Linked DNA regions of Homo sapiens. The gene in region 7 interacts genetically with the main gene of each other region. Each region holds a gene or a part of one and is shown on either strand. Other genes may lie near its edges. The genes, in order: SGTA, DIPK1A, TUSC2, SLC38A10, BPTF, ELMO2 and KEAP1.

Region 1 (3,500 bases), 7.7 Mb from region 7:
ATTGTTCATTAGGTTCGAAGCCTGAAGAACAGAACAAATTTGTCAGGAAGACAAAGCTCCCAGCGCATCATTCTCTTTCATCAGACACTTTCCATCTTAACCAGCCTTGGTTCTGGACTCCAGCACGCCAACCAACAGTAAGAGCCGGGCATTCGGTCTTTCATACCCTTTTCCCTACATTTTCGCCCCCCCACCCACGAGCTGTGACCTCCACATTGTGACTTAAATCCTGTTTTGGGTTCCTGCTTCAGGAGCGATCTCGCAGCGCCACAGCGCTCTCTCACTGGCTGCTGCGGTTTTGCTGTGTGGAGGCGTTTTGGTTCTTTATTTTAGCTGCTGTCTGCTTTAGCATATTTCATTTAGCATATTTGGTTCCAGTTTTGCTCTATCAATAAATAGCACTGTGGCTGGGCGCGGTGGTTCACGCCTGGAATCCCAGCACTTTAGGAGGCCGAGGCAGGCAGATCGCTTGAGGTCAGGAGTTCGAGACCAGCCTAACCAACATGGTGAAACCCCGTCTCTACTAAAAATATGAAATTAGCCAGGTGTGGTGGTGCATGCCTGTAGTCCCAGCTACTTGGGAAACTGAGGCACAAGAATCGCCTGAACCTGGGAGGGGGAGGTTGCAGTGAGCCGAGATCACACCGCTGCACTCCAGCCTGGGTGACAGAGTGAGACTCTGTCTCAAAAAAGAAGTAAAAATAAATAAATAAATAAATAGCACTATACTGGGCACTTTCTCATGTTAACTTTCCACTTGGGATTATTCCTTTGGACCTGTTGAAAGGAGGTGGCTCAGAGGTGTGGCAAACTCTCTGTGTAAAGGGCCAGTGTGTAAATACTCTCAGCCTTTTCAGACACGGGTGCCTGACGCAACTACTCAGCTCTGCCGCCGTATCATGAAAGCCACCAGTGACACTAGGTGTATGAATGGGCATGGCTGTGTGCCAATAAAACTTTATTGGTCAGGTGTAGTGGCTCACACCTGTAATCCCAGCACTTTGGGGGGCCGAGGCGGGTGGATCACAAGGTCAGGAGTTCGAGACCAGCCTGGCAAACATGGTGAAACCCCATTTCTATTAAAAAATACCAAAATTAGCCAGGCATGGTGGTGGGCACCTGTAATCCCAGCTACTCGGGAGGCTGACGCAGGAGAATCGCTTGAACCTGGGAGGCGGAGGTTGCAGTGAGCTGAGATCACACCACTGCACTCCAACCTGGGCGACAGAGCGAGACTCCATCTCAAAAAAAAAAAAAAAAAAAAAAACCAAAAAAAACTTTATTAACAAAACCCAGCGGCGGGCCTTATTCTGCCAACCCCAGATGTCTGAAGGGAAAAGGCGTCTGTGACATGGCCAAGCTGAGAGGCCCCTTGAAAGACTGGGGCCCAGTCACCCTCCATCCCATGGTGAGGGAGAACATATTCCCCTGGCAGCTTGGCCAGCGGACGAGGGCTACAGTAAGAGGTGTGGCCTCTGCTGAATGGCACGACCCGGGCAGGGCTCCTGGCCCAGCTGGCTCATTTTTCTGACTGACAGTGAGACTGAGGGCTTTTCTCCCCGACAGCCTTAGGCGAGTCCCTGTACCCTGAGGCTGTGGGAGCCTGAAGAGTGGTCCCAGGGCACACAGACCTCCCAGGAAATGAACATGTGTGTGTGGGGGATGGCTCTCCGAGGATCCCAGTCAAGGAACTCCCTGCCAAAGGCCGTCCCTTTGGAAGCATGAGTGCCCGGGCATCGGGAGGTCCACCTGCGCCCGGCGCACCCGGCGCTCTGCTTCCCTTGCCTGAACCTTAGGAGGCAGACGCTGCTGTGTTGTGATCAGTGTCTCTGCACTGCGAGGAGGAGCCCACGCCAGGGTGGGGTGGGGGTGTGACCTCCCTGGGCTCAGCCAGGAGAGCCAGCTTTTGGTGCTCACTACTGATGGGTCTTGCTTGGGACATCAACATTGGGGACACTTTTGATTGTCGAAGCAGAGGGTGGGGGTGCTCCTGACATGGGGCGGGTGAGGCCAGGGGTGCTGCCAGCGCCCTGCGGTGCCCAGGACGACCCCACAGACAAGACCCATCTGGTTCCAGAAGCCAGCAGTGCCAAGGCAAGGAAGCCCTGGCCAGTAGCGGACACAGCAGATGCGGGCCTGGGGGGTGGCGCAGACACCATGGACAGGGAGGAGGGGCGGGCCGTTACCATGCTCATGAAGCCAGGGTTGTTCAGCAGGCCGGCGATGTCGAAGCTGCCCACGCCTCCCGTCTGAGGATGAGAACAGCCCTGGTTAGTGGGGCCTGGACCAGAGGCCACGGTGAATAACCCCCTGGAACTCAGAAACAACGGCCCCCCACGGGGCTCAGACATTCTATCAACCCTGCGGCCAGAGGGTGCTTTGAGGCAGGCAGCACGAAGCACATCGCAACCGCCCGGGGACGGCACAGTCTGTCATCCCGTGTTTATTCCCCGCACAGCGCGACCGCCCGGGGACGGCACAGTCTATCATCCCGTGTTTATTCCCCGCACAGCGCGACCGCCCGGGGACGGCACAGTCTATCATCCCGTGTTTATTCCCCGCACAGCGCGACCGCCCGGGGACGGCACAGTCTATCATCCCGTGTTTATTCCCCGTACAGCGCGACCGCCCGGGGACGGCACAGTCTATCATCCCGTGTTGATTTCCTGTATTCTGCCGCTTTGACACCTTGGGGCCTTGCTGGCCTGGCAGAGCCGCCCCCTCCTGGAGTAGCCAATTCCCAGAGAAAGCAAATGACTCACCCAGAAACGCACCTTTGAAATACAAACAAACTAACCCAGAACCCACACCCTCAGCACCTCCCCCATCACCCCAGGGCCACAGTCCACCTGCCCCACTCACCCCCAGGCCAGGGACCAGGCAACCAGGGGCAGCCCCCAGGCCTGGGTCTAATGAAATGGCTCCAACCAGCCAACCCGAAGCCTCCTCACCCGGCCTCGCCACAAAACCCACATCGAGGGTCCTTTCTGTGCCCCTCCCTCAGCCTCCGCGGGCAGCCCTGCGGCCGGCCTCCTGCTTCCAGGGGTCTGGGGGCATGAACCTTCTCACGACACTCACTTCCACGCCTGTGCATCTCACCACCAACTGAAACAAACCCCGGACCCTCACGACACCCAGGTTAAGCCTAGAGCCACTGGTGCGCCCGAGGACCTGTCCCCCACCCACACAGTCAGCTCGGCGTTCTGGAGCCACTCGCCCCCGCTGCACTCACGGGGCTGGGGGCCTCCCGCAGCTTCAGCTCCGCTATCTTGAGGTTGGACTTGTATGTCTCGTTGTCGGGGTCCAGCTCCAGAGCCTTCTTGTAGTAAGCCACGGCCTCCACGTGCTTGTTGAGGCTGGAGAGCGCCAGGCTGGAGGAGAGCACCGGGGATGGACTGTTCCCATCTGCCCAGCTCCAGGAGGCCCCGCCAAAGCCCTCGTCCCCGGCGGTCCTGGCAACCCCCAAACCACCTCGGATGGTGCCACCCCCTGCCCGCTGT
Region 2 (2,398 bases), on a different chromosome or scaffold from region 7:
CTATTAGAGGCTGGGAAGGGTACAGAGGAGAGGAGAATAAGGAGAGGTTGGTTAACAGATACAAAATTACCGCTAGATAGGCAGAATAAGTTCTAGTGTTCTATAGCACTATAGGGTAAAGGGATTAATAATTTTTGGTTATTTTCAAAAAACTAAAAGGATTGTGAATGTTCACAACACAATGATAACTGAGACATAAATATGCTAATTACCTTGATTTGATCATTACAAATTGTATGTGTGTATTGAAATATCACTATGTATCCCATGAATTTTTTTTCTGTGTGCTCCCGTTCACAATACAGACAAGGCGCAGGGCCTGGGCTGAGGTGTACATGGGAGTTCACCTCCTCATTCTATACAGTCAGTATAAGAACACAGCCTGGGGTAAGCACCAGGAGGCCTGGGGATTTTTTTTCTTTCTTTCTTTTTTTAAAAGATGGTTGGTTATTTGTTTTGTTTTGTTTTGGCAGGGTCTTGCCCTGGTGCCCAAGCTGGAGTGTGCAGTGGCATGATCTCGGCTCATTGCAGCCTCAGCCTCCTGGGTTTAAGCCATCCTCCTGCCTCAGCCCCCCAAGTAGCTGGGATCACAGGCGCACCACCGCACCTGGCTAATTTTTTTTTTTTTTAGACGGAGTCTCGCTCTGTTGCCCAGGCTGGAGTGCAGTGGCATGGTCTCAGCTCACTGCAACCTTGCCTCCCAGATTCAAGCAGTTCTCCTGCCTCAGCCTCCCGAGTAGCTGGGATTACAGGCACCCGCCACCACACCTAATTTTTGTATTTTTAGTAGAGATGGGATTTCACTATTTTGGCCAGGCTGGTCTCGAACTCCTGACCTCATGGTGATCCACCCGCCTCAGCCTCCCAAAGCGCTGGGATTACAGGCGTGAGCCACCGCATCCAGCATTTTTTTTTTTTTTTCAGCAGAGACGGTTTTTTTTTTTTTTTTTTTTTCTAGCATAGACACGGTTTCACCATGTTGCCCAGGCGGGTCTAGAACTCCTGAGCTCAAGCTATCTGCCCACCTTGGCTTCCCAAAGTGCTGGAATTACTGGCTTGAGCAATTGTGCCCATCAGTATCCCATAAATTTGTAGTTATTACATGTCACTAAAACTAACGGGAAAAAAAGCATAGCAGTTCTTCCTATGCAAAAAAAAAAAAAAAAAAAACGGTACTCTGCAAATTATTTTTTTAATTTAAAGGAATACCAATATAGGCCGGGCGCGGTGGCTCACGCCTGTAATCCCAGCACTTTGGGAAGCCGAGACGGATGGATCACAAGGTCAGGAGATCGAGACCATCCTGGCTAACATGGTGAAACCCCGTCTCTACTAAAAATACAAAAAAAAATTAGCTGGGCGTGGTGGCAGGCGCCTGTAGTCCCAGCTGCTCGGGAGGGTGAGGCAGGAGAATGGCGTGAACCTGGGAGGTGGAGCTTGCAGTGAGCTGAGATCGCGCCACTGCACTCCAGCCTGGGCGAAAGAGCGAGACTCCGTCTCAAAAAAAAAAAAAAAAAAAAAAGAAATACTAATATATAGATTAAATAGAAATAAAACAAAGTTTTAGAAAAAAGTTTTATTTTCATTGCTCTTTTATTTTCACTCAAATTTTTTATTTGGCCATTTTACATGTATTTCAGACTAACGGAAATACTTTTTAATCTTCATTATTGTAATACTACTATTTGAACAAAATAATTATTGTGATAAATACAAAATAGGATAAAATAATTAGGCCAGGCATGCTGGCTCATGCCTGTAATCCGAGCACTTTGGGAGGCTGAGGTAGGAGGATCACCTGAGCCCAGGAGTTTGAGACCAGCCTGGGCAACATAGTGAGATCCCCATCTCTAAAAAAAGGAAAATAATTTTTAGTTGACCCTTATTGTAACTTTGATGTAAGTACATTACAGTACAATTTTTCAAGTCCACATATGAGGCGGTGGTTTTTTAATGTATGAATGAGGAATAATTACATTGTTGGTTAACTATCTAAGGGGCCTGAAGGGGACAGGGGAGTTAGTGGCCATTTCCTAACAAACAGACAAGTATTTTAAAGTGGGTTTTACTGCAGTTACATAAAGCATGGTTCTAGTTCACTTAGGAAGTATCATAAATATTTGGAGATATAATACATTAAGTTCCTGTTTGGGGATTCAGTACCAAGATTATTTCTGGCATGGTTAATAATGCCCGTAAAGAAACTTAGTATGTTGCATGGGAGGTATTTTTCATTCCTTCTGTGTAACTAGCCAAATTCTTGACAGGCAAAATTGGGTGACCAAGGAAACCTCTCTGAACTGGTTAATCTCATCTTGACGGTGGCTGATGGAGACAAAGATGGCCAGGTTTCCTTGGGAGAAGCAAAGTCGGCATGGGCACTTCTTCAACTGAATGA
Region 3 (3,949 bases), on a different chromosome or scaffold from region 7:
TGGGGGTTCGGGGTTGGGGGGCAACAGTTAGTTGCAGTAGGGGGATCAGCCCAGCCCTGGGTAGAGGGAGAAGCCCCCACCCAGTCCCCACTCCTATCAATAGCCAGCAAACTGTCCATCCATCTGAAGGCGGGAACAAATGGCAGGTAGGTCGGAAGAATCAGGCTGGCACTGCCCCCAGCCTCTGTCCAACACAGGAGGAATCGAGGTAGCAAACGGCTGAAATGCTCTGACTAGGGGTTAAAAGGGAAGTGAAGGAAAGGAAGTTCCTACTTGTATACAGTGCCCACAGCCTAGGGGCTGGAAGAAAGCATACCTTGCTTGTAAAGTGCTGTAGCCTCTAGCAGGGCTAGGCCCCAGGCAAACTTGGAAGAAAGCAGACCAGGCAAGGAACCAGGTAACGGGCATTCCTGACTGGTATATGCCCTGCTGTGCTGCTTGCAGGGGTGGCTTGGGAGAGTGGGGTGCTAACTCTGCCATTAGCCTTCACCACCCACCAACCACCTCTTGTCCACACACAAACCAACACCCAACCAATACTGTGGGACCGACCCGCTCACAGCTGAAGGTTATGGGCCAACAGAGTTTATTCAGGGTTGTGGCCCCAGCCTGGGCTCCTCAATGGAAGCCACACCTTGATTGAGCCTGGGAGTTTCTTGCCGGGGCAGGGGGTGCTTCTGTCTGCCACCTCCCAGGGTCACACCTCATAGAGGATCACAGGGAAATCCACGTGGATGCGGGGGTGATCCAGCTTCACGATGCCCTGCCATGGAAACAGAGGCTAGTAAGGGTCAGCTCAGGGCCTCTACTTCAGGAAGCTTCCTTGTTCCTCCCAGATCCCCCCGCAAAAGCCCCCACCATGACAACAGATCCCATCTGGGTCCACCTCCACACGCTTAGTGTAGGCTCTGTGACCGCTGCCCAGCCCCTCACCTGAGGAATCAGATTCTTATGCACTCGCCTCAGCTTGGCCCGCTTCTGCCCGTTCTTGGTGACGATTGTCTCCTCATAGAACTCGTGAGCCAGATCCCCATCCTCATCATAGAACATAGAGCTGTGTAGAGGGAGAAGGAAACAGGCTGGGCTGGAGCCCCACACCTGGGCATGGCAAATGTCACAGGTCACGGGGAAGTCTGTGGTCTTCCCAACCCCAAGTGGGAAGAAAAGAGGATAATATGCCTGGAGAATCCTTTTTTTAAAAAAAATTTTTCGAGACAGAATCTCACTCTGTTGCCCAGGCTGGAGGTGCAGTGGCGCGATCTCAGCTTGCTGCAACCTCTGCCTCCTGGGTTCAAGCAATTCTCCTGCCTCAGCCTCCCAAGTAGCTGGGACTACAGACATGCACCACCACACCCTGCTAATTTTTTGTATTTTAGTAGAGACGGGGTTTTGCCATGTTGCTCTGGCTGGTCTCGAACTCCTGAACTCAGGCAATCCACTCGTCTTCATCTCCCAAAGTGTTAGGATTACAGGCGTGAGCCACGGTGCCTGGCCTGCCTGGAGAATCCTTTGCCTGGGGTTTGGGGTCTACTAGAAGAAAGTGGGAAGTGAGGTGATGGGTGGGCAGTGCTACTATGTCAGACCCCCAAGAAGAGAGCCCACACCAGAGCACACCATCCAGGCAGCCACCAAGGCCAGTTCTCATCCTTGATTTGTTCAGCAAGGGCAGCCATTCTAATATCAGGACTTTGCCTTCACCCAGGACTTCTAGAGTGGGCAGGGTGGTGGCCTGGGCATGTTGGTCTCACTCCAGAAGATGCTGCTGGCCCAGTGTCAAAGACTGAAATAGCAGAAGCCTAAGCTAGGAAGAAGCACAAAGGAATGAAGGCTGCGTCTCCCCTGACCCCACACCCCAGGTGGCTGGTGAATTGCCACTGTTGGGTCTTCCTGGTGTCTACAGCCAAATCTCTAGCACAGGGAGCGCCCATCTCCAGGAGCCCACTAGAGCCAAGCCAATCTGGTACTCTTGTGCGGGCCTCTGGGAGACTGGGCTGGGGGTTGGGTGGGTAGGTCAGCGCTCTGGATCTGGAGAACATAACTGGGTGAGGGTCTTTTTTCCTCAGCCTCACCCCCAATACTGAGGCCTATCCCTGCTTTCCCAGCCACTACGCTCAAAGGTTCAGCCCCACTACTGTCAGGAAAAGCAGCCTAAACAGAGGGTTATTATCCCCTTGGAATAACTGGGGGGGAAAGGGAGGCTAGGACCCTTCAGTATGCAGGCTGAGCCGGAAGGGATGAAAGGAAGAGATCTTATGGAGGTCTTATGGAGGCCCTAGCTTAGCTTTACCGTGCGGAAGGTCCGACCAGTGACAAGCCTCAGGCCCACTCTTCCCTAGGGAGACTTTCAGAGTGGCCAGGCCGCCAGGAGACCACTGCCCGGCTTTCTCCACCCCCAGCTCCAATGAGGCTCAAAATATGGGGGTCGTCCTGGCTTGGCTGTAGTGGGGTACAGCGGTGGAAGTTCCCCCGTGGCGCGGGACGCCTGGCCGCCCGCCTGTTCCCCCCGCCAGGGTGGAACCCATGCCCTTACCCGCGGCGCGTGAATACGAAGGGGGGCACAGCTCGGCCCCGAGGCCGCACCAAAGCTTGCTCAGCTCCTGCTGCCTCTGAGCCGCCGCCTCCGGCCGCCGAGGCGAAGGGCCACAGGCCCCGAGCTTTGGACCCGCTGGCGCCCATGTCAGGGCCGCCGGCGCATGGCGGGCCCCGTGGCCGCTCTGCTCACACCGCAGTCCGCACTACCATAACCTGCCCCAGCCGCTGATCGCAGGTGCCGCCGCCGCCGCCTTCCGCAGGCTCGGCTGTCTCCACGGAAACCTCACTTCCGCTTCCGCACGCTGCCACCTCTGATTGGCTGTTGCTCAAGTCGTGGGGGCGGGACCAATGGGCGCCCTTAGATGCTGGGCATCCCAGCATGCGTTGCGAGATCCCAGGTCCCAGCAAGCGCGATCTGACCAGCTGGGACAGCTCCCACCGAGGAAAGTGGTGGCCGTGAGTCCTCCCGGTCTTTTGGGTGTATTTGGCGGCTCTGACGTCCCCCAACACCTGAGTTCAGGCCTAGCAGGACTTCGCAAGCACCAATCCTCAAACCTGCACTTCAGGGCCTAAGGCCAGACCGCCGGGTGCCCATCTGGCTTCTATTTTCACAGCTGTATTTTTGCGATTGCCACGCTTATGTGAACTAACCAAGTTGAAAGAAAATTAAGGAACTGGCCAGATTCACATAGTTACATTCAGTTCTGAAGAACTTCGAATTCAGTGTTTTCAAACCCAGCAGAGTCCATGCTTAATGAAAGCAAGAATTGTTAACAGCTATACCCTCGGTATCACGAGCAGTGTCTGGTCCACGGTGGCAGCTCTGTATTTGGTGAAGGAGTTATGCCACACCTTCTCCCAGAGCGTGGTGTGTGTGTGTTGAAGGGATGGTTTTGTTTTTTTTTTTTTTTGAGATGGAGTTTCACTCTTGTCGCCCAGGATAATGTGCAGTGGCACGATCTCGGCTCACTGCAGCCTCTGCCTCCAGGGTTCAAGCGATTCTCCTGCCTCAGCCTCCCGAGTACTTGGGATTACAGGCATCTGCCACCATGCCGGCTAATTTTTTTGTATTTCTAGTAGAGACGGGGTTTCACCATGTTGGTCAGGCAGTCTTGAACTCCGGACCTCAGGTGATCCACCCGCCTTGGCCTCCCAAAGTGCTGGGATTACAGGCCTGAGCCACTGCGCCCGGCCGTTTTTTTTTTTTTTGAGTTGGAGTCTTGCTCTATCGGAGTGCAGTGGTGTGATCTCCACTCACTGCAACCTCTGCCTGCCGGGTTCAAGCGATTCTCCTGCCTCAGCCTTCTGAGTAGCTGGGACTACAAGCGCCCACCACCACGCCCAGCTAAATTTTTTTTGTATTTTTGGTAGAGATGGGGTTTCGCCATGCTGGCCAGGCTGGCCTCGAACTCCTGGC
Region 4 (3,500 bases), on a different chromosome or scaffold from region 7:
CCTTTTGGCTCTGCCTTCCGCGCTGCAGGTGCAAGGAGGGCGAGCTGCACCTGGAGAAGCCAGGCCGCAGCGACTGGGACGTGGCTGCTGCACCTGCCCTCCCTCGGACCGGCTGTCCTGAGGCCACAGGGCAAGATGCGCGGGCAGGAAGCGTGTGTCTTACGAACATCCTGGGAGGTGCCCGTGCCAGGGCTGGCCCGGAGCTCCCACACCTGCTCCCAGGGGCTTGGCACAGGAGGCTGGAGCGGCTGTGCCCTGCGACCCCCACACAGATCCCTGGAACAGACCCTCTCAATGCTGAGGCACACGTGGACCCCGCATGGGGCAGGGTTGACCATCTTGAGAGAAGGCTTGGACACTGCCACCAAATGCACGTGACTTTTGGTGAGCGGGGGCCCAGCCACACACCCTCAGAGGGCGGGTGGACCCCTAGCCTGGGAGAGGACATGGCACAGAAGCCTGTCCCCAGCAGGCTCACAGACGGGGCTGCTGCTACCCAACTGCATGAGGCCACAAGGAGGGGTCGCAAAAAGCCAACAGCTGAGACCCAAGGGGCGAGAAGTTTGGAGGAGGATTCAGAGCAAGTTTTATTCTCAGGAGAGCAAAGGCGTAAGGAGCTTTCCTGGAGGGACAGGTGACAGATCCCTGTAGATGAACACAGCCGAGCTCCGAGGCCCGAGGGTGTGGGAGCAGTGCTCTGGGCCAGGGCTATGCTAGGACCAGGGCGGGCACAGCCACCCCCAAACTGGGTCCCCTTGGGGCACAGCCTTAAAATAAACCTCCACATCTGGGTGCAGGCACGCCCACACCTGGCTGGCTTTAAATACTCCGAGTGTTAAAACTGTTAACAAACCTGCTTTAAAGACGAAATGGTAATCACAAGCCAAGTGACAATGCCGCAGGTGTTTTAAAGGGGAGCAAGGGAGATAAAACGGTAATCACAAGCCATGTGACGATGCCGCAGGTGTTTAAAGGGGAGTAAGGCAGATAAAAGGTTCCCAGAAAGCAAGCTGCTGATGGGAAGGGAGCAGAAAGCTCTCCGAGGGGTCTGCTCAGCAGGCGGCTGGAAAGAGAAGGGGGGCCTGGCAGGGCTCCCGAGGATGACCTGGGCATCACCCCAGGGCTGGGGGAGGGGGCTGCCGCTCCCTGGGCCTGAGGCAGGCGGCTGTAGGGCGGAGGCCTTACCCTCCAGCTGGCTGGCCGCCTGGTTTCCACCCGCTCGCTCCACGTCCCTCTGCTCGCGAGGCTCGGGCGGCAGCCCAGGCCCTGGAGCCGGCTTCTCCGCTGGGAGGGGAGGCTTCCCACCTGCACACACGGTGAAGACTCAGAAGGTTTTGCAGGAAAGTCAAGGGAGGGTTTGGGGGGTTGGGGGACAGAAGGCAAGGGCGGGACAAAAGGAAGTGGCAGATGTTTCTAAAGTGACACCCCCGTCAGCACAGTTTATATTCAACCTGATGATTACTAGCGAAGCAATAAAAAAATATTTAACAACCTCATAGGCTTGTGGCAATGAGCCAATGGTAACTGCCTTCGCAATTAAAATGCAAGAACTGTCCTAAGCAGCTCTTAGACGGGCACTTAACAACGTGTTACCTGTCAGGCGCCCCCCGCGCCGCCCCCCGTGTGCGCCCAGACACACGAGCACAGCGCGGCACCTGACATTTAGTGGTCTGGCAAACAACTGTGTGACAGATATTACAGTAGCTGTCAGCCACCAGCCTCTTCCTGTCCCCACCAGCTGCCGGGGCCCGCTCCATTTGCATGCTAATCTGGTGCAGGGAGAGAGACTGGGGACTGAGGGAGGAACCATCGATTCTGCTGCCCCTGCCCAGCCTCCCCAGCCCAAGAGGGGAGTGTCTTCCGACACGAGCCCAGGCTGACACCCACCGTGGTCGCTGTCCTCTGCGGGCTGCCCTGTGTCCCCGGCGGCGTTGCCTGGCGGCGGTCCCCCCTTGGCCTTTTCCCCTCCACCCACCGCCAGGCCGTTCTGCTGCTCAGACAGCACTGCCTGGGGCCGAGGATGCAGGCCCCTGTCTCCTGGCCCCAGGTCCTCCTTTGCAGGCTGGACAGCTGGCTGACCATCTGCTTCTGGAACTTTCTGGGGATCTTCAGGAAGATCACCCGCCTCCTCCAAGGCCTGGGCCTGTCCAGGCCTCTTCCCAACCTCTCCCTGCTCCGGCTCTTGTTTCTCTCTTTCTGAGTCGGGCAGAGGCGGCGCCATCTGGCCCTGGACCCCTGGAGCCTTTCCGCCCGCGTGTCTGGATGGAGGTTTGTTCTCTTCTGGCACCTCTCGGTCTTGGCCTTCATCTACCACCACCTTGTCGTGAGGAACAGGAGGCTCGTGGCGGTGGGCCTCGCCCACAGGCACAGCAATCCCTGCAAGGGCACGGGGGACAGATGGGGTCAGGCTGAGGCCCCTCCTTCCCTTCCCAGGGAATTAGAACTGGGTTCTTCCCTGGGTTCTGGCTCCCAACAGTGTGACACAGGCCAACAGATACCACCTCCCCTGCCGGCCTCCCTGCTGCCTGGCCAAGCACAGCTGATGCTAAAGTTCAACAGGGGCAGCTGCAAACAAGTTGCTCTGGGAGGGGCAGGACATTCATCTGAATTGAAAGACAGAGAAAACAAAAAGGACCAGAACTTAGGCTGGGCTGAAGGGAAAAAGATACACACAGCCCTGAGAGCCACCCCGCAGGGTGTCCAGCCTGCAAAGGAGGACCCGGGGCCGCCCTTCCCCATCCGCACCCCCAGCCAGTGCCCAGCACCTTGCCCAGGGCGATCGAGCTGTGCCTCCTCCGGTGCCTCCTTGCCATCTTCCCGTCCAGGCACATCCACGGGCCCCTTGATCTGGGCCTGCTCCAGCTCCTCTCTCTCCTTCGGCAGCTTCGGCTTCTCCCGGCCATCCTCAGCCACGGCCACAACCGGATCCTGGGCTGGGAGCAGGGCACAGTTAGGGAACTGCACTGCCAAGCAGCTCCAGGAGCGGGGCAGCTCTCCCTGGACTGTTACCATATTTTCCAGCCAAATGGCAGAGTCAAAGCAGTTTCTTTTTCCTGTTCGATCATTAGCAGCTAAGTAGCACAGAAAACTGTCATTTTTCATGTGTATTCACAACAAAAATATGTCAAAATGCGATTTACACCTAACTGGGGGCAGGGAGAACTAGACTCCATGTAATACTCAGTCATTACCACCAGATGGCGGCACGAGCCCACCGACCCACTCTCCCACAGTCCCCTCCATTACCATCACCTCCATCATCACCGTCATCACCGTCACCTCCACCACCACCACCACCATCACCGCTATCATCACCATCATCTCCATCCCTACCACCATCAACATCACCATCATCACCATCATCTCCATCCCTACCACCAACATCACCATCATCACCATCACCATCACCATCATCACCATCTCCATCCCTACCACCATCACCATCATCATCACCGTCACCATCATCACCATCTCCATCCCTACCACCATCACCATCATCA
Region 5 (3,500 bases), on a different chromosome or scaffold from region 7:
CACAAAGGAGGACTTCACTCAGCCAGAGTGCTGGGGCTACCCAAGCTGTGCAGGATTTAGGGCAAATAAAAGGCTAGAGAAAAAGAGATGTTAGGTAAATTCCCCCTGGTCTAACAGAGGCAGACTGACTACAATGAGTCCAGGAGAACTTTCTGCAATGATATGAAATGCCCCAAATGCTCTACATTTGTGTGGTGCAATACATGTGGCTATAGAGCACTTGAAATGAACATATAACAGCTAGTGCCACAGGAGAAACTAACTTTTCATTTTACTTAAATTTTTTTTTTAAGAGATGGGTTCTCACTCTGTCACCCAGGCTGGAGTGTGGTGGCATGGTCCATAGCTGACTAGGGCCTCTAACTCCTGGGCTCAAGCAATCCTCCCACCTCAGCCTCCCAATTAGGTAGGACTACAGGCATGCCAACCTCTGCCAAACTATTTTAATTCTTTTGTAAAGACAGTGTCTTACTATGTTGCTCAGGCTAGTCTTCAACTGCTGCCTTAAGTGATCTTCCCACCTCAGCCTCCCAAAGTATTGGGACTACAGGTATGAGCCACCACGCTTGGCCTGCCTAGTTTTAATTAATTTAACTCTCCACATGTGGCTAGTGGCTACCATACTGGACAGTATAGAGCGTGAAAAGAATCCACAGGCTTTCTTTGACTCATCATTCAGTTCCACAATTACTTGTGCTGCCTACTGCATTCAAGAGATTGAACCAGGCACTACAGAGACTGAATGAGACTGTCCCTGCCCAAAGTAGGTTGTAATTAAAGAAGGGCCAGATATTAAAAGCCCATTTCAGCTCCATGTCTTAACAGATAAAGATAGAGATAAAGGGGTTAAATAATTAAGAGGATAAAATAATCCTTCCTAAAGGTTTATGGACTTTAGGAAGGAGCCTCAAAATACATGAATATAAAGCCTCAAAATACATGAAGATTGCTAGAACTTCAAGGAGAAACAGACAAATCCTTCACAATAGCTGCAGACTTCAAGACTTCTCTCAGTAATCAACAGAACAAGCAGAAAGTCAGACAGATCTTAGTAACATTATCAACAAACTTGACCTAATTGACATTTATGCAATACTCCACTCAACAAGAGCAGAATACAAAATTCTTTTCAAGTACATATGGAACATTCACTTAGACTGACAAAATTTTGGGGTGCAAAACAAACCTCTAAAAATGTTTTATAAAATTAAAGTCATACAAAGTATACTCTCTGAACAAAATGAAATTAAATTAGAAATCAGTAACAGAAGGATAGCTAAAAAATTCCCAAATATTTGGAAACTAAAACACTTAATGCACATGGTCCTGGAGGTTATACGGGTGGGAAACACAGGAACTTAGCCCCACCTGGCGGTAAAGGGAATGGTGATCAGAGAAGGCAGGCTGGAGAAGGTGATGGATGGATGACTAGGAGTTAGGTGTGTGAGAACTACAAAGAAATCAGTATTACTAGATCCATTCGAGATGAAGAGAAGAAATAAGGAGTGAATAAGGAAAAGAGAAATAAGGGAGATTCAGAAGTCAGTTCATCCTTGAATCCTTTTCTCCCACTCACCACATCCCAGCCTAACCAATCTATCACTAAGGATTCATTCTAACTCCTGAATTACTTTCTTCCAGGCACGGTGGCTCACACCTGTAATCCCAGCACTTTGGGAGGCCAAGGCGGGTGGATCACTTGAGGTCAGAAGTTCAAGACAAGCAAGGCCAACATGGTGAAACCCTCTTCTAGTAAAAATACAAAAATTAGCCAGGCATGGTGGCACACACCTGTAGTCCCAGCTACTCAGGAGGCTGAGACAGGAGAATCACTTGAACCCAGAAGGCAGAGGTTGCAGTGAGCCAAGATCATGCCACTGCACTCCAGCCTGGGCGACAAGAGACTCTGTCTCAAAAAAAAAAAAAAGAAAGAAATTAAAACTGAATTTGCAATAATACAGCAAATAATCCTAGTTATATACCCAAGAGAAATGAAAACATACGTACAGATAAAAACATGTACACGAATGTGCTCAGCAGCATTATTCCTAATGGCCAAAAAGTGGAAACAGTTCAGATGTCCATGAACTTAAGAAATGGATAAGCAAAACATGGTCTCTGGACACAGAGATGTGTGCCTGTAATCCTAGCTACTCTGGAGGCTGGAAGGCTGAGGCAGGAAGATTGCCTGAGTCCAGGAGTTTGAGGTCAGCCTGGGCAACACTGCAAGACCCTGTCTCCATAAAAAAAAAAAAAAGGCTGTATAGCCATACAATGAAGTGTTATTCAAATATAGTACTGATACATGTTAAGATATGCATAACGCTTGAAAACATTAGGCTAAATGATGGAAGACATATATTATATGATTCCACTTTATAAGAAATGTCCATAAGAGGCAAATCAGGCGGGGCGCAGTGGCTCACGCCTGTAATCCCAGCACTTTGGGAGGCTGAGGCGAGTGGATTACAAGATCAGGAGTTCGAGACCGGCCTGGCCAACATAGTAAAACCCTGTCTCTACTAAAAAAAAAAAAAAATACAAAAAATTAGCCAGGCACAGTGGCAGGTGCCTGTAATCCCAGCTACTTGGGAGGCTGAGGCAGGAGAATCGCTTAAACCCGGGAGGTGGAGGTTGCAGTGAGCTGAGATCCCGCCACTCCACTCCAGCCCAGGTGACAGAGCGAGACTCTGCCTCAAAAAAAAAAAAAAAAAAAAAAGAGGCGAATCAACAGGGAATCAAAGTAGATTAGTGGCTGCCAGGGATGAGCAGGAGGGAGGTGAAGAACAGGGAGTGATGCTGACGGTGCGGGCTTCTTTTGCGGGGGTATAAAAACGTGCTGGAATTAGGTAGTGTTAATGGTTGCACAACTCTGTCAATATACTAAAAAAACCACTAAATTATATACTTTACAAGGGTACATTTTACAGTATATAAATTATATCTCCATACAGCTGTTACCTTTTAAAAACTGAATTTTCATAAATATTGCTTGAAAATCATTCAGCAATTCAGAAGATGTCCAATAAATTTAGCTATTACTGTCACTATTTTTAAAATGTGACAATCACAAAATAATAGTTGAATATAACTTACTATCTAGAAAAACATAAAAATTTTAGATATATACCAGCAGACAAAACAATTAAAACATTATAATTATATTTACGTGCATTTTAATTATTTCTATACGGTCACCTTCGATCTTTTAAAGTGCATTTTAATGTATAAGTGGTTTTTTTTTTTTAAATTAAGAAACATGCTGCCTCCTGAGGCTTATCATTTTAAAAAACCAAAAGCATGAAAAAAATTAGAGGCCGGGTACGGCAGCTCACCCCTGTAATCCCAGCACTTTGGGAGGCTGAGGCAGGCGGATCACAAGGTCAGGAGTTTGAGACCAGCCTGGCCAATATGGTGAAACCCTGTCTCTACTAAAAATACAAAAATTAGACGGGCGTGGTGGCAGGCGCCTGTAGTCCCCTACTCGGGAGGCTGAGGCA
Region 6 (3,500 bases), on a different chromosome or scaffold from region 7:
ATCCTTGGCAGCCACCCAATGCGCCTGGAGGAACCTCAGGTCCAGCATTATGTAATGATACCTGCTGCTTCATCTGGGTGCCCCCCCAACCACAGCTCCTCCTTTGAGACATTCCCATCCTATTGAAATGCCACCTTCTTCTCAAAGCCTTCCTAGGCTTCAATATACACTGCAGCCACCCACCACAGGGGACTTTCCTGTTTTGCTCATTCCTGCCACCAACTGAAGAGTTACAGAAATAGCTCTGTTGTCTAAGGCAGCGCCACACTGCTCACCTCATATTTATTAGGTGCGATGAAGTTTAAGGTCTCATCAGGGTCATACAGGATGGAGAAGGCCAATTCCAACACCTCCTGAAGGAGAAAGGGTTTAAATTAGAGCGATGGAACAGCCTGGGGTCTGCACATCAAGATCTTGGCCAAAGTCCTAGTGACTCGGCATCATCACCAAACATGCTGATTCAGATGAATGTCATCAATGCTCCTAGGCGGCCACAAGTGTGGCTGGAGATGAGGCCCAGCATAAATCAACCTTAACTTACCCACTCCCTGCCCAAGTCACATCAAAGATGTTGTGATATTTTTAAGATTGGAAAAAAGTCATTTTCAACACTCAGAACCCTGGAAGGTCACGATCCATGACTGTAAGTTATCCTAAAAGTTTTTATATTACCAAGATGACTAACAACTTCTATCGTGCTGTATTTGGCATAGGAATGTCTTAACAATTAAAAAACAAAACAAAACACACACACACACAAAATTGGTCACTGTTGCATGATACCAAGGAACTAACTCATTATTTTGAAAGTAAGTACATAAAAGAAGAATCAGCATTTATTCTCGTTTCCTATATAAACTGTACCACTGGGAAACCAATAGTAGATAAGGGCAAGTTTCATGGTTCAGCTCATAAATGAAAAGCAATGACTGCATCAAAATATCATGAGTTTGCAAACCTTAGTTGACTGATGGAATGAGGCACTGAGCTTCAACAGTCTGCTAATTATCACAAAAGGAGAGACCACCAGACGTTATGTGCCTCTTGATAGAACATAATACCACTGATGACACTGGCCAGGAAAAAAGTTAAACCTGAACTGGATCAAACCTCTAGATCCCTCTTCCAATGTACAGATCTGGGACAGAGGAACAAGTTAAACTGTACCACGGGGAAACAATCAGCAAAATTCAGATGCTAGGAAACTACCAAACAAGCAATCTGGTTCTTCAGCTAATAAACTGCAAAGGAAAAGATGGTGGGGGATGGGGGGGCGGGGGAACTTATGAATTAAGAAACTTAAAAGACCAGTCTTAGACTCTGGTTTAGACAAGATGGGTATGGGGGTGTGTGTGTGTGTGTGTGTGTGTGTGTGTGTGTGTGTGTGTGTATCCATATAAACATTTATATATCTGTAGAGAAATTATGACATTTATAAGACAATTGGTAGAAAGTCACCATCAGTGGAATATTTGATCTGAAATAACTACTTTCATTTCCTGTTATGTGTGCTAATGGACTGGTGGCAATGTTATACACTATACGATGTACACTAAATATTTACAGATGAAACAGTGTGATACTTGGGACTTTCTTCAAAGCGATAAAGGAGAGAAACAAGTGGATGGGCAGAACTGGCCATGGTTGCTGAGTCTGGGTGATGTGTATACAGAGGTTCCATCTATTTTTGTGTATGTTCAAAATTCTTAATAAAACATTCAGGAATAGAGAGGGGAAGATGCCAAGAATGCACCTGGAAAAAACCACCACCAATGGCACTCTCCAAGTATCACTGGGCCAGCTACTCAAACTGGCCTCTCTACTCACCTTGTTCTGTTTCAGAGCACTTTTCTCTTTCATGTGGGGACAATCTTTCCCAGTGACAATGGCCTTAATGTCTGCAACAGGAACTGATAAATGATGGGAATTAGTCTCTGGAAGTTCATGCTGCAAGCTGGTCAGTGCCTACATCAGTGCTGGAAGGGAGGTACTGGGGCAGATGCATAGGAAGCCTCAGCCCCAAACTCCAAGGGCTGCTGTATGAGCTCAGTGAGGGTGGTGGGGAGGATGGCCTTGTACTGTTCCCTCCGTCTTGGTCACTCCTGTAGACCACAGCCCAGTGAGGCTGTGTCAAAGCTAACTGAGGGTCACTTCAGGGCTCTTGGATTTATATCCCCAAGGAACGGGACCTTGGTGACTCCCTTCCCCTCTCCTTCACAATAATGGCGATGATGATGCCATCATCGCCAACAGCAGTGGCAGCTGCTAACAGTTATGCTGACTACCTGCCAACCACTCTTCTAAGTGCTTTGCATACATTACTCATGCAATCCTCTTAGGAGGAAAGTGTGGCTATTATTCCCACTTTACAGGAGAAGAAACCAAGGCAGAGGGGAGAACTTGCAATTAATTAGAATTCAAGTTAATTAGGAGCAAAGCCAGGATTTGAATGTGGGCAGTCTGGCTTCACAGCTTCTCCTCTTAACTACTGCCTTTCGACTTAGTCATGTACCACCCTTTACAGTCTACACAATACATTCACACCTGTGAACTCATTGTTTCTCCAAACCACCCCACCGAGTAGGCCAGGTAGAGGAAATCGCTGACAGATAAGGAAACAGGTCCAGAGAGGTAACAGGTACAAGCCCAGATGATCAGCTACAAACAGCTGGACTAGAACTCCTGTCTCCTGACAAGTCCAGCAACCATGACACATCAACAGAGAAATGAACCTACTTTTCTCCTGCAGGGATTCAAATGTCACCTCCCCTTGTGGGTTGTCATCCAAGTCACCATAGTGAAGGACCTTGTGGTTCAGTGCCAACCGGCAGTACCAGAACCGTTCTGGAACACAAGGGAAGCCAAACAGGTGAGCAACGACAGTACTGGGAAAGGCCTGGGCACAAAAGGGGCCATCCAGGCAGGCTCTTCCCGGCACCAAGGATTGCCCCGTCTCCTCTCACCTTGCCTTCGGCGGTTCCCAATCTTTCGGAAGCTGCTGCCCTCACAGAGCCGGTTCAGGCGCTGCTGCTTGATCAGCTCAAGGATCTCGGGCTGGATCTTCTCCCTCAGCTCCCTGGGGTGGACACACACTGGAGTGAGCGGAAGGTCATGGGGACAGTGGAGCTCTGGAAGGAAAGCAGAGCTGGCAGCCACCTCCCCCGCCAGCCTCCCCTGAGATGGAACTTACACAATTGGCGGGGACTGGAAGTCATCCTGACTCATCCTCTCAGACTGGCGCAGTCGTAGAATCTCAGAGTAACTCAGGCTACGCAATTTGCTCTTGAACTGATCCAAAGAGTTGGGTTTGGAGGGCAAAGCTCGAGTGATTTGCTCTCGGACGACTTGCATAACCTAAGAGGAGAAGAACCCAGCCAACTCACACCACTACTCTTGAGAAATGGACAGGCCTATTATGGAGCACCAAGGCTCTTTCCTGCCCCAGGGTCTTGAGCAGGGCAGGCACTACAGACATCTGCTGGGTGAGTAAGGTATACCTT
Region 7 (4,086 bases):
CCAGAGCTGACAACTGCAGGGAGGAGCAATCATAAACTAAAATAAGCAAGACCTGGAAAAACAGCTTCATGAAGAAAATTACAACAGCATTGTGACAACGTGAGAATCGGGTGCAGTTTGTTTGCTTTTTTTTTTTTTTTTTTCAGATGGAGTCTCTCTGTCACCCAGGCTGGAGTGCAATGGCTCGATCTTGGCTCACTGCAACCTCCGCCTCCCGGGTTCAAGCGATCCTCCTGCCTCAGCCTCCCGAGTAGCTGGGACTACAGGCGTCCGCCACCACACCCGGCTAGTTTTTGTATTTTTAGCAGAGACTGGGTTTCGCCATGTTGGCCAGGCTGGTCTCAAACTCCTGACCTCAAGTGAGCCGCCCGCCTTGGCATCCCGAAGTGCTGGGATTACAGGCGTAAGCCACCATGCCTGACCCGGGGTGCAGTTTTTTAAAATCTGGCAGACCAAGCCTCTTTGAGAAGGTGAGGTTGGAGCTGAGACAAGGATGAAAATTATTATAAAGTGGGAGGCTGGGGAGTAGTTTTCCAGGCAGAGGAAACAGTAAGTGCAGTGGCTCAGAGGCTGAGACAGTCAATCTGGAGAATTGGGAAGGAGTGCAGTGAGAGCTAAGGACTTAAGGAAGGGTTTCATGGAAACCCCTGGATCCTGGAGGGCCAGGAGATGAGTTATGTGTTTTGTGTTTTGTTTTTCGAGACAGAGTCTCGCTCTGTTGCCCAGGCTGGAGTACAGTGGTGCGATCTTGGCTCACTGCAACCTCTGCCTCCCGAGTTCAAGATATTCTCGACCGGGCGTGGTGGCTCACGCCTGTAATCCCAGCACTTTGGGAGGCCGAGGCAGGCGGATCACAAGGTCAGAAGATCGAGACCATCCTGGCTAACATGGTGAAACCCCATCTCTACTAAAAATACAAAAAAATTAGCCGGGTGTGGCGGCGGGCGCCTGTAGTCCCAGCTACATGGGAGGCTGAGGCGGGAGAAAGGCGTGAACCCAGGAAGCAGAGCTTGCAGTGAGCCGAGATCGCACCACTGCATTCCAGCCTGGGTGACAGAACAAGACTCCATCTCAAATAAAACAAAAAAAAGATATTCTCATACTTCGGCCTCCTGAGTAGCTGGGATTACAGGCACCAGCCACCACGATGGGCTAATTTTTTGTATTTTTAGTAGAGATGGGATTTCACCATGTTGGCCAGGGTGGTCTCAACCTCCTGGCCTCAAGTGATCCCCCTCCTCGACCTCCCAAAATGCTGGGATTACAGGCATAGGCTGCTGTGCCCAGACGTGAGTTACGTTTCAAAAGGAGTGGGGGATCTCCAAGTGGCTCCCCACAAGTGGATCTGCAAGTTCTCACTCCCCTCTTTCTGGGACTCAACTCAAAGTCTCCTCTTCCCTGTTTTATTGTCATCACTGCGCTTGTCAGGAACTGAAATGACCTCCTTTGCTTGTCTGTTGATCGACTGTCTCTCGTCCCCGGCCCCAGCGCCTCAAATGGCAGGGAGACCTATGTAGGTCGGCGTCGGGCCAACCCTCTCCTGTGCCTCTCGCCTGGGGCCTGGCACTGCGCAGGGGTCAATAAACGGGTGGTTGGCTAACTGCCCTGCCACCGTGCCTGCCAGAGCGGCCTCCTCCACCCTCCCTGGGTGCCACTCGGCCCCCACTCTGGTGCCAAGGCCCTGGGTTTGCCTCTTGGTCTTTGGCCAATCGGTCAACAATGCCCCTTGGGCACCGGGCACTTCCCCCACCCTACAAAGCGGCAAGTGGGCGACTGCGCATGCCCCTCCTGAGCCTCCACCAGGCCCAGTGAGGCGAGGAAGTGACCCCACCGCGGCCTCTCGGCTGCCAACCCCAGAACGCAGATCGAGCCCCTCAACGCCTCGGAGCCCCCGGGCCTCCTTCTGCGCAGCGCCTCCTGGTTCTCTCGCTCGGTTTCCGCCGCTCCCGGGCCACCCCAAGAGTTGCGCCGTCCAACAAAAATATCCACCCAGGTCGCGCCCTCCTGGCCCTCCGAGTCCTGGCGGGGAACTCGGAGGCGCCCTGGGCCGTGGCGCCCGTTTTCCTGGTCTCCGGGCACGGCCGCAGGGGCGCTCGCGGCCCGCGATGCCCGCAGCCCGGGCACATCCCGCCTCACTCACCCCGCCATGGCCGCGCTCCGGCTCCGCCTCCACCGCCCGAGCCCCGGCGCCTCCATCGCTGCGCGTGGGGGAGGCGCGGAGCGCGCGCAGGTCACCATGACTAAGCAGAGCCGGGCGCCCGCCGTGTCACAATAAAAGTCCCCGGGCCCTGGCCTCAGGCGGTAGGGACCGCTGAGGGGCCGCTCCCCACCCCCGCCCACGCCTGCTGTCGCCCAGCTGCGCGGCCACCACGGCGCCCAGCATGGCGGCGGGGCGGGGGCACGCGACCCTGAGCGCGCTTAGCCGCGTGGTCCGAGTCGCGGGGAGTCTGAACCCCGAGTTCCAGGCCTGCGCGCCCCGGCCCGCACCAGGGGTGGGGTGGACACCCCTCCCCGTCGCTGCTGCCCAAGCGCTCACCTCAGCCCCCAGGTCGCCTCCGTAGGGGGTCCCTCGGGGTGGGGATGGCCGGGGCGCGCAGGGGCTCCGGGCACAGTGATGCCACCCGCGCACTGCGCTTCCGGGAAGCCGGGGGACCGCGACCCAGTCCAGGAGATTCCTGCCTTACCTTGGCTGTAGGGGACCCGCGGGCGCCTCCGCCGTCGGGGGGCCTCGGCTCCAGGGCTGCGTGGCCTGCGGGGTCTTGGTTGTCGGTTGGGGAGCGGCCTCGGGACGCCCGAAAAGGAGGCGGGGAGAGGGCGGAAAGGGCGCGGCGGGAAAGGAGCGGCGATTCTCCCGCCCTTCCCGCAGGTGCCCGGCGCCCGTCGGCGAGGAGTGGGGCATCGGGCGGGGGCGCACAGCCAGGCCCCCCTTCTCACTGTCCCTTCCATCTCCCGATTTCGTTGCTGGATGTCTCCTCGCGGGGCTGCGCGCCACCATCTGCTATTCTCCTTTTAACAACGCACAGCGCCGGCCTCGTGGTCCGGCGGCCGCAGGATCTAGGGAAAATTATCTACCTCGCTAGGTTTTCTTTTCTTTTCTTTTCTTTCTTTCTTTCTTTTTTTTTTTCCTTTAGAGACAAGGTCTCGCTCTGATCTGCACGCCCAGGCTGGAGTGCAGTGGCGCAATCGCGGCTCACTGCAGCCTTGAGCTCCTGGCCTCAAGCGATCCTCCCACCTCAGCCTCCTGAGTAGCTGGGACCACAGACAGGCGCCACCACACCCGGCTAATTTTTAGTTTTTGTTTGTTTGTTTGTTTTTCTGTAGAGATGGGGTCTCGCAATGTTGCCCAGGCTGGTCTTGAACACCTGGGTTTAAGAGATCCTGACTCCATTGGCCTCCCAAAGTTCTGGGATTATAGGTGTGAGGCGCTGTGCCCAGGCCTCAGGTTTTCCTTGTCTTTTTTTTTTTTTTTTTTTTTTAATTGAGACAGAGTCTCTCACTGTCACCTGGGCTGGAGTGCAGTAGCTCGATCTTGGCTCACTGCAACCTCCGCCTCCCGGGTTCAAAAAATTCTGCCTCAGCCTCCCGAGTAGCTGGGATTACAGGCGCCCGCCATCATACCCAGCTAATTTTTTGTATTTTTAGTACAGATGGGGTTTCACCATGTTGGCCAGGATGGTCTCAAACCCCTGACCTCATGATCCGCCCGCCTCGGCCTCCCAAAGTGTTGGGATTACAGGCGTGAGCCACCGCGCCCGGCCTTCCTTGTCTTTATTTTTGATTTACTTCCTATCAAGAGGCGTGTGGCACCCGTCTTTGGGGGGTTCAAACCCTGGATCTGCCTCTTACCAGCTCAGTGCCCGTGGGCGCTTACTTAGTTCTCTATGGTTCAGTTTCCTCTCTATAAAAAGTAATAATATAATAGCACCTACCTACCAGATTATCATTAAGACTAAATGCGGGGCCGGGCGCGGTGACTCACACCTGTAATCCCAGCATTTTGGGAGGCCGAGGCAGGCGGATCACGAGGTCGGGAGATCGAGACCATCCTGGCTAACATGATAAAACCCCGTCTCTACTAAAAATACA

Evidence for each region.
Region 1: changes in KEAP1 (region 7) and SGTA together harm fitness more than expected from each alone (negative genetic interaction), as found in Homo sapiens cells (one large-scale study listed by BioGRID).
Region 2: changes in KEAP1 (region 7) and DIPK1A together harm fitness more than expected from each alone (negative genetic interaction), as found in Homo sapiens cells (one large-scale study listed by BioGRID).
Region 3: changes in KEAP1 (region 7) and TUSC2 together harm fitness more than expected from each alone (negative genetic interaction), as found in Homo sapiens cells (one large-scale study listed by BioGRID).
Region 4: changes in KEAP1 (region 7) and SLC38A10 together harm fitness more than expected from each alone (negative genetic interaction), as found in Homo sapiens cells (one large-scale study listed by BioGRID).
Region 5: changes in KEAP1 (region 7) and BPTF together harm fitness more than expected from each alone (negative genetic interaction), as found in Homo sapiens cells (one large-scale study listed by BioGRID).
Region 6: changes in KEAP1 (region 7) and ELMO2 together harm fitness more than expected from each alone (negative genetic interaction), as found in Homo sapiens cells (one large-scale study listed by BioGRID).

Annotation. Positions count from the first base shown.
Region 1 is NC_000019.10:2,759,274-2,762,773, forward strand, and holds part of SGTA (small glutamine-rich tetratricopeptide repeat-containing protein alpha), read right to left. Parts: intron 3,372-3,500; coding exon 3,233-3,371; intron 2,250-3,232; coding exon 2,187-2,249; intron 22-2,186; coding exon 1-21. UniProt on the Homo sapiens protein: Co-chaperone that binds misfolded and hydrophobic patches-containing client proteins in the cytosol. Mediates their targeting to the endoplasmic reticulum but also regulates their sorting to the proteasome when targeting fails.
Region 2 is NC_000001.11:92,844,065-92,846,462, reverse strand, and holds part of DIPK1A (divergent protein kinase domain 1A), read left to right. Parts: intron 1-280; exon of another isoform or gene 281-404; intron 405-2,267; coding exon 2,268-2,398.
Region 3 is NC_000003.12:50,325,424-50,329,372, forward strand, and holds the start of TUSC2 (tumor suppressor candidate 2), read right to left. Parts: upstream 2,801-3,949; 5' UTR 2,677-2,800; coding exon 2,531-2,676; intron 1,055-2,530; coding exon 934-1,054; intron 764-933; coding exon 698-763; 3' UTR 1-697. UniProt on the Homo sapiens protein: May function as a tumor suppressor, inhibiting colony formation, causing G1 arrest and ultimately inducing apoptosis in homozygous 3p21.3 120-kb region-deficient cells.
Region 4 is NC_000017.11:81,250,308-81,253,807, forward strand, and holds part of SLC38A10 (solute carrier family 38 member 10), read right to left. Parts: intron 2,934-3,500; coding exon 2,766-2,933; intron 2,377-2,765; coding exon 1,888-2,376; intron 1,306-1,887; coding exon 1,186-1,305; coding exon of another isoform or gene 908-1,185; exon of another isoform or gene 563-907; intron 1-562. UniProt on the Homo sapiens protein: Facilitates bidirectional transport of amino acids. May act as a glutamate sensor that regulates glutamate-glutamine cycle and mTOR signaling in the brain. The transport mechanism remains to be elucidated.
Region 5 is NC_000017.11:67,832,003-67,835,502, reverse strand, and holds part of BPTF (nucleosome-remodeling factor subunit BPTF), read right to left. Parts: intron 1-3,500. UniProt on the Homo sapiens protein: Regulatory subunit of the ATP-dependent NURF-1 and NURF-5 ISWI chromatin remodeling complexes, which form ordered nucleosome arrays on chromatin and facilitate access to DNA during DNA-templated processes such as DNA replication, transcription, and repair.
Region 6 is NC_000020.11:46,368,616-46,372,115, forward strand, and holds part of ELMO2 (engulfment and cell motility protein 2), read right to left. Parts: intron 3,355-3,500; coding exon 3,191-3,354; intron 3,077-3,190; coding exon 2,964-3,076; intron 2,845-2,963; coding exon 2,737-2,844; intron 1,911-2,736; coding exon 1,828-1,910; intron 354-1,827; coding exon 276-353; intron 1-275. UniProt on the Homo sapiens protein: Involved in cytoskeletal rearrangements required for phagocytosis of apoptotic cells and cell motility. Acts in association with DOCK1 and CRK. Was initially proposed to be required in complex with DOCK1 to activate Rac Rho small GTPases.
Region 7 is NC_000019.10:10,500,557-10,504,642, forward strand, and holds the start of KEAP1 (kelch-like ECH-associated protein 1), read right to left. Parts: upstream 2,801-4,086; 5' UTR 2,685-2,800; intron 2,216-2,684; exon of another isoform or gene 2,141-2,215; intron 1-2,140. UniProt on the Homo sapiens protein: Substrate-specific adapter of a BCR (BTB-CUL3-RBX1) E3 ubiquitin ligase complex that regulates the response to oxidative stress by targeting NFE2L2/NRF2 for ubiquitination.